2 linked regions of the Homo sapiens genome follow. The protein of the gene in region 2 interacts with the protein of the main gene of each other region in a biochemical or structural test. Each region holds a gene or a part of one and is shown on either strand. Other genes may lie near its edges.

What was found.
Region 1: the proteins of NHERF1 (region 2) and TBC1D10A form a complex in vitro, tested with the Homo sapiens proteins (2 studies listed by BioGRID and IntAct).

Annotation. Positions count from the first base shown.
Region 1 is NC_000022.11:30,320,316-30,324,067, forward strand, and holds part of TBC1D10A (TBC1 domain family member 10A), read right to left. Parts: intron 1-3,752.
Region 2 is NC_000017.11:74,758,578-74,762,329, reverse strand, and holds part of NHERF1 (Na(+)/H(+) exchange regulatory cofactor NHE-RF1), read right to left. Parts: intron 319-3,752; coding exon 157-318; intron 1-156. UniProt on the Homo sapiens protein: Scaffold protein that connects plasma membrane proteins with members of the ezrin/moesin/radixin family and thereby helps to link them to the actin cytoskeleton and to regulate their surface expression. Necessary for recycling of internalized ADRB2.

The sequences.
Region 1 (3,752 bases), on a different chromosome or scaffold from region 2:
TTCCCTGTACTGAGACCTGCTCTGCCCTCCATACTGGAAGGGGGAGGTAGCCAGATTCCTGCTAACTCCTGCCCTGGGTGTGGGGACCTCAGGGACCTTAGGGACTTAGGGACAGTAAGCACCTGGCACCCTGCCTGCTGCCACCTTAGCAAGGTGTAGTCACTACTGGATGCAGTGTCAAGAAACAGGTTCTAGTCCCAGTTCTGCCATTTACCAGCTGGCAAACCTTGGGCACTTTTTCCTCGGTCTTCAGTACGCTCATCCACAGAATGGGGATAATCACCCCTCTCAGGGGAAGTAAGGATTCACCATGGGTTAGGGTTCATTCCTGCCGACAGGGGCTGGGCCTCACTGACACTCATCATTATAGCCAAAGATGGGAAGTAGAAAATGAAAAGATAGAACCACGAGCTGCTCCAGTCTTTAAGAGGGAGAAGAACATTCACTGAGCACCTACCCTGTATTATTAGTTCATTTAAACCTCAGAATGATCCTGCAAAGTCAGTGTTATCATAACCATTCTGCAGGTGAGAAACTGAGGCTCAGAGAAGTGAAGCAACATGTCCAAGATCACACAGCCAGCCAGATTCTGGCGCTTGTGTGAGGAGGGAGCACACAGTACCTTCTCTTGCCCACCTCGATATAAACAGATTGGGTGGCTGGGCCACAGCCAGGCCTCACTGCCCCTTGGGAGGTCCTGTTTCAGGCCCAGATGCTGGTAGGACAAAACATCAAGTAGGTGCTACCATCTTATCTCTTTCCCACAGCTTAGAGTTTCCCAGCAGGCGGACACTCAGGCACCTTCCCAGGGTAGCAGCTGGTGTGCCGGCTCCCTCCTTTACCAAGTCAGGTCTTGTCTGAGGACCTAACACTCACAGGGCCACCAAACCGGATATTCCTTCGAGGCTAAGAAGGGAAAAATGAGAGAAAATGGGAGGGCCTGCAGTCTAGAGTCACAGCCCAGGGCCCCATATGTACAAATGCCTCCTTCCAGATGGGCCACCCAGGGACCACCCCAATGCCAGCTCCATGCTCTCCTGGGATCTGTAACAGCTCAAGAAAAGTAGATGCTCTGAGTTTACTAACTAGAGAATAAGGCAAGGAGTCAGAATCTGGCCTGCCAGGAGGGCCCTGACCCCACTCCAATAAAAACTGGCACACAATAAACTATAGGGATGCCAATTAAGCCAGTTCTATGATTTCCAAAGTTGGCTAGTAATGAAAGGCCCAGGGAATGAGAACTAAAGAAGGCAATACTGCTATTCCAGATGTTTCTCCCTGGGCCCAGCTCAGATCCCTTGCTCCCATAACAGGAAGCCAACACCCATGGGATCCCAAAGAGCATAGCTCCTCACCTCATTTGGCCTGCAGACTGGGCGGACTGAGGCTGGATGGGAAGCTCTCAGCCTCAGGAGGCCAGACCTGACAATCACATAGGAAAAGGAGAAGAAGGTCAGGGACCACCTCTCTCAGGTCACCTCCCTCGGGCCAGGAGACCTGGTATAAAACTTGTATCCTTCTTTCCCTTCCCAACCACTTCCTCTATGCTACAGAAGGGACACCAAACAAGTCTGTTCTTCCTGCTCCAAAGTGACAGGAGGGGTATCATCACTCCTCCCACCCTTCCCTGCTGAAAACATCTTTTTCCTCAACTGGTCCTGGGCCTTTTTTTTTTTTTTTTTCTTTGAGACACGGTCTGTCTCACCCAGACTGGAGTACAGTGGCATGACCTCAACTCATTACAACCTCCGCCTCCCAAGCTCAAGCGATTCTCCTGTCTCAGCCTCCTGAGCAGCTGGGATTATGGGCGTGAGCCACTACCGCCTGGCTAATTTTTGTATTTTTAGTAGAGACGGGGTTTCACCATGTTGGCCAGGCTGGTCTCAAACTCCTGACCTCAAATGATCTGCCCACCTCGGCCTCCTAAAGTGCTGGGATTACGGCGGTGAACCACTGCACCCGGCCCTTCCTGGGCTTCAATGCCCCACTCGGTCTCCAGCCAAGCCAGAAGAACTAATGCTGTCGGCACTCTGATCTATGCCTATGCCACCCACAGGATCATTTACTGGCAAGCTGCTTTCTTGTCTGTGGCTACTACTCAAAAACAGACAGGGACCATCTCAGTCTCACTAAAGGTTCCCTGCGGAGTAGGCTCAAAAGACAGACAAGGTGAAGAAATGGAAAGGCCTAGGACTGGGAATCAGGAATTCCAGGTTTCTCACAGGCCTCCAGTTTATCCATCTGTATGCTGATGGCCATCTCTAAGGTCACTTTCAGCTTTTTTTTTTTTTTTTTTTTTTTTTTTTTTAGGCAAGGTCTCCCAGGCTGGAGTGTAGTGGCGTGATTTCAGCTCACGGTAACCTCCACCTCCCTGGGCTCAAGCAGTCTTCCTACCTCAGCCTCCCAAGTGGCTAGGACTATAGGTGCATGACACCACACCCAACTAATTTTTGTATTTTTTGTAGAGATGGGGTTTCACCATGTTGGCCAGGCTGGTCTTGAACTCCTGGGCTCAAGCGATCGCCTGCCTCAGCCTCCCAAAGTGCTGGAATTACAGGCGTGAGGCACAGCACCTAGTCTTTTTTTTTTTTTTTTGAGACAGGGTCATGTTCTGTCTCAAGAAAGAGCTGGGTGGAGCACAGTGGCACCATCTTGGCTTACTGCAACCTCCACCTCCTGGGCTCAAGAGATCCTCCCACCTCTCAGCCTCCCAAGTAGCTGGGATTACAGGTGCCCACCACAATGCCCAGCTAATTTTTTGTATTTTCTTGTAGAGATGGAGTTTCACCATGTTGCCCAGGCTGGTCTCGAATTCCTGAACTCAAGGAATCCACCTGCCTCAGCCTCCCAAAGTGCTGGGATTATAGGCGTGAGCCACCATGCCCTGCCACTTTCAGCTTCCTGACTTGAAATGTCTCCCCGCAAATAAGTATTAATTACTCCACCGCAGGCCTGAGGAGAAAAAGGTGAATGAGCCTCTTCCCAGTCCTGAAGCTAATCAGTCTAATGAACTGGTAATGACAACATATTCTTATCCTTCTGGGCCACTTCTATTAGCCTCATATACTGCTGAGAGAGTCGAAAGTGCTGAGCTAAGTCAGGGAAGGTAAGAGCAGGCAGGTGACTGCTAAGACACTTCTGTTCTACCTGTCTGACACCTGATATCCTGCAGGGACGAAAGGCCATATTTATGGATGGTGAAGGCAGTGGAAACTGTACTGACCTGGGAGTCAGAAACCCTAAGTCCAAGTCCTAGTTCTGCCACTAATATGCTGTGATCTTAAGAAAGTTACTCTTCTCTCTGGGCCTCAGTTTCCTCATCTATGTAAGTAAGGGCTGAGCTGGTCAATCTATTAAGATCCCTTACAGGCCAGGCATGGTGGCTCATGCCTGTAAACCCAGCACTTCGGGAGGCTGAGGCAGGTGGATCGCCTGAGGTCAGGAGTTCAAGACCAGCCTGGCCAACATGGTGAAACTCCATCTCTACTAAAAATATGAAAAATTAGCCAGGTGTGGTGATGGGTGCAATCTCTGCCTCCCAGCTACTCAGGAGGCTGAGACAGGAGAATCACTTGAACCCGGGAGGCAGATGTTGCAGTGAGTTGAGACTGCGCCACTGCACTCCAGCCTGGGTGACAGAGCGAGACTCCGTCTCAAAAAAAAAAGATCCCTTACAGTGCAGTCTATGGTTTTTTTAATCTACTCATGCCATGTAGCTAATAGTCACCTCAGTAAGGTAGCCTGTGACCTGC
Region 2 (3,752 bases):
TCCCTCCCTCCCTCCCATCCACCCATCCATCCAGCAGCTCCAGGTTGGCTATGCCCGTGGGCTAATCAAGCCCATGATGGTATGATGGCTGCCCCAGGTGCTGCTGATCTGCAGGGGGTGGGGGCAGTCAGATAGGAAGAGAGCGAGAAGCATCACCTCCACAATGCGATCCTGGGCCCGGAGCCCTGAAGCCTCAGCCGGGGAGTCTGGGTCCACTGACCGGATGAACTGGCCTGGCTTGGACTTGTCGCTGTGCAGGTTGAAGCCATAGCCACTGGGGCCCTTCTTCATGGTACAGAGCCGAGGCCGAAGCTCGCGCTGCAGGGACAGGGGAGGGTCCATGGCTATTCCACAGTGCCCCAGGTTCTGCCTTCCCTGTCCTCTGCCTGTCCCCATCTCCCCAACCAAGGAAGGTTTGGGAGGATGCAAATTTGCCTAGATCCCTACACAGCAATTTGAGAGGGTTCTGGCCCAGGACTCAAAAGACTTGTGTGGATACCCAGCACCGCAGCTAACTGCTTAGGTGATGTGGATAAAACACTGCTCTGTCCAAGCCTCAGTTTCCTCTTCTGCCAAATGAGGGGTAGGACCAGGTTAGCTCTCACATGCCTGTCCCTTCTGACAGTCTAAGGTGAATCACATGCTGTGTTGATCGGGCCTCTATCCCTCCCCATTGGTGGCTCAGTCTGGCCCTCCTGGAGAGGGGGCAGAGTGTGGCACCCGTCAGCCTGGCTGGGGACCTGGGGCATATGACTGAGGACCCCCAGCCCCTTTGTACCCCGTTCTCTGCAGCAGGGGAGGAAGAGGCAGGTGTTTACTGAAAGCTGGTCAGTGTGTTTACAGTAAAGCCTTCCTCCATATACTCGAACTCTCTCTCACCCCCACCAAGCCGAATGGCCCAGCCAAAAGGGAGCCAGAAGGAGCAGATAACCAAAAACTTATTGTTCAGCACAGCAAGGGGACCTGGACAAGACGGGGCCATCCTCAGGCGTTCCAGGACCTCCTCCCCCGACACCGCTGCCCAAGGGCAGAGGTGGCAACGGAAGCACAGAGACCCCAGAAACAGAGGAGCCTGAATGGGGAGGGGACTGGGAAAAGCAGGGCTGGGCTAAAGGGAGCCCAGTGTGGCTGTGGCCTGGAGGGTGTGACCTACTAAAAGGGCACACGCAGATTTCGAGTGCTTGGACTCAGCTGAAAACAGTTTCCAACATGCTTGGTCCAAAGTAAGCAGCTCAGCTTAGAAGCTGCAGGCCTGGACACACAGTATGATGGAGGGAATATGGGTGTAGGCAGCCGAAGCCTGTGCCCAAGGACTACGCCTGAGTCCCTGTCCCTCTCCCCCTCCTCCAGGCCTGGTGCAGGGCCACTGGCTGCTGTCCAGCCTGCTGGCCCTGTGTTATCACTCAGCACATCAGACAATGAGCAGTGGATAGTCAAGGCTCCCAGCCAGGTTCCAGCTCCCCTGTTTAGGAGCTGTGTGACCTGGGGCAGGTCATTTATGGATCATTCTGACTGCCATCTGCCTCCCAGGGTTGCTGAGGCCCAGTGAGGTCATTGACTTAAACACTTTCTAACTGTAAAAAATCCCTGTGCACACCCAGACTTTCCCATTGTTGTGAATACTAATGAATAGTCATAGGAAGCTGGGAGTGAGATTCTGGTGGGGTGGGGGTGTGTGTGCCAGGCTGCTCTGAAACCCAAATCCCCAGCTGGGAGTGGAGAGGGCCGAGAGGGGTGGGAAGGCGCGCCCAGGAGGGCTTATGGGCCTCTGTCCCAACTTGCCAGCCCCAGGAGGCCGCCACCATCTGCAGGAGACTCAATCCCCAGCCTTTCGATCTCTGGGGGTGGCTAGAGGATGACTTTGCATTCCTTTAAAGGCTTGGGCAGGTCTTTCTTGCCTGGGTTTTCATACCCAAATCCAGGCTCGAGGACCCCTCACCCCAACAACAAAGACGGTTAAGTGAGTGGTAAAAACGTGAGTGGCTCACAAAGGCTCAGGAACCCTGAATGAAGCTCCTCTTGCCTTGTTCTCCCTGGCCCACCCCCTGCCTCACTGCAGGGCCCACTCCCAGCTAGTTCGGCTGTCACCTGCCCCAGGCTCACCCCCCGGCACTCCCACAGCCCTGTGGGATCTTGTTCCGGGAGTAAGTGAGGCTCTTCTCCCCTAGAGCTAATCCCTCCACAAAGCTCCCAGCCAGGCCCTCCCCCGGGCCGCCTAGGTGAGCAGAAACAAGTCTGACCAGTCGCCGTCACCAGGACAGGCGCAGCTTTCTGCTTCAGCCAGACACCCTGAGAAAGTGGGGAGGGTGAAATCTCAGGACAGGCAGGGGGCAGCTCTAGTGACCTCCTCCAACCTCCCTCCACCGTCCCTGCGCTCCCAAAAACCTTCCCATAACAACCTGACTGGGGCTTGTCAGCTGTTTTTGAGATGGGGAAACTGAGGCTCAGAGATGTGGAGCCCACTGCCTGACATCACACAGCCAGAACTCCAACCCTGGTCTCTGACTTGGAACCTGTCCTCCTTCCACCACACTGCAGGGTGCTCCTTAAGGATCCAAGTCCAGAATGGGGCAACCCATTGGGAGGTGAGGACCCAACAGGAGTCAGGCAGCAGAGGGCAGACAGGGGCTCTCTCCAGGGCATCGGCTGCAGCCTCTGCTGGAGGTAGGCTGGGAGCTGAAGAAACCACAACCTACCACAGCCTTCCTTCCGGGCGCTCAGGGCCTCTCGCAGCTGGAGCTGCAGCCTGAGCTGGGGGATGAAGCCTGGTGTGGGTGACAGGGCAGGGGCATGGCTGGACTGGGGGCAGGTGGCTCTGGGCGCCCCCCCCGGCTGGCAGGGCAGGGCTGTGCTAGCTGCCTTTGGGATGCCCATCCTCTGGCCCTGGTCTCTGTGCTGTGGGCTTCCCTTACTGATCTTCAGCCCAGTGCCCCTCGCCTAGTGACATATGGTGCCAAAGCTCCAGGGCCTGCTTTGAGCCTTGCTCCGCTCTGCCAGCACCAAGTCGTGCAGTTCAAGGGGAAACAGGGTACCCAGCCTGAGGGGCTCAGGTGCCCTCTGTTTCCTTCCCCTGCACTGGGACCTGCTCCACTGTTCTGTCTAGATGTGGCTCTGTGGCGGCTCCAGGACCTGAGGGGGTGGCTGGACAAGGAGATGGGAAGCCCCCGGTAGACCCCACCAGCATTTAGACAGCTCCGATGCACCTGCAGAGCCTCCTTCCCAAGTCCCTAGAGACTTCCTCCCCTCACATGGGAAGGGGGGTTCCCACTCTTCAAGGGAGACCAGCCTTGTTCCTCCTCACCCCTCCCTAGCAGGAGCCTCCCAGCTGTCTCCAGGAGGTGTCAGTGCCAGTTGCTGAGTCAGCCCATCAAGCCAGCCCATCCCAGCCTGGGTGGAGGCTGGGGCTGGCAGGGGAGTCCCTTGGGGCAGCCCCCCTGGGGATCTGTGGGGCCTGGCCTGTGGTCTCCAGGCCCAGCACTGAGAGGAGAAGATGGGGAGGTGTGGGGTACCTGGCCGAGCTCAGCCACCATTGCTCTTGGACCCTCACCGCCAAGCTGGGGCAGGGCTGGGTTCTGCCTCTGGGGAAAGGGGATAAATGGGAGTGACGTCCAGGCATGTTGGGCTTGGTGTGTGGCCCCCAGGATCTTAGGAGGAGCCAGCTACAGAGGGGTCCGAAGCATGGTGGGAGGAGGAGACTCAAAAGGAACATAGCCCCAGTGAGTTCCGGAGGGCAAAGTGGGACCTCCAGTGAC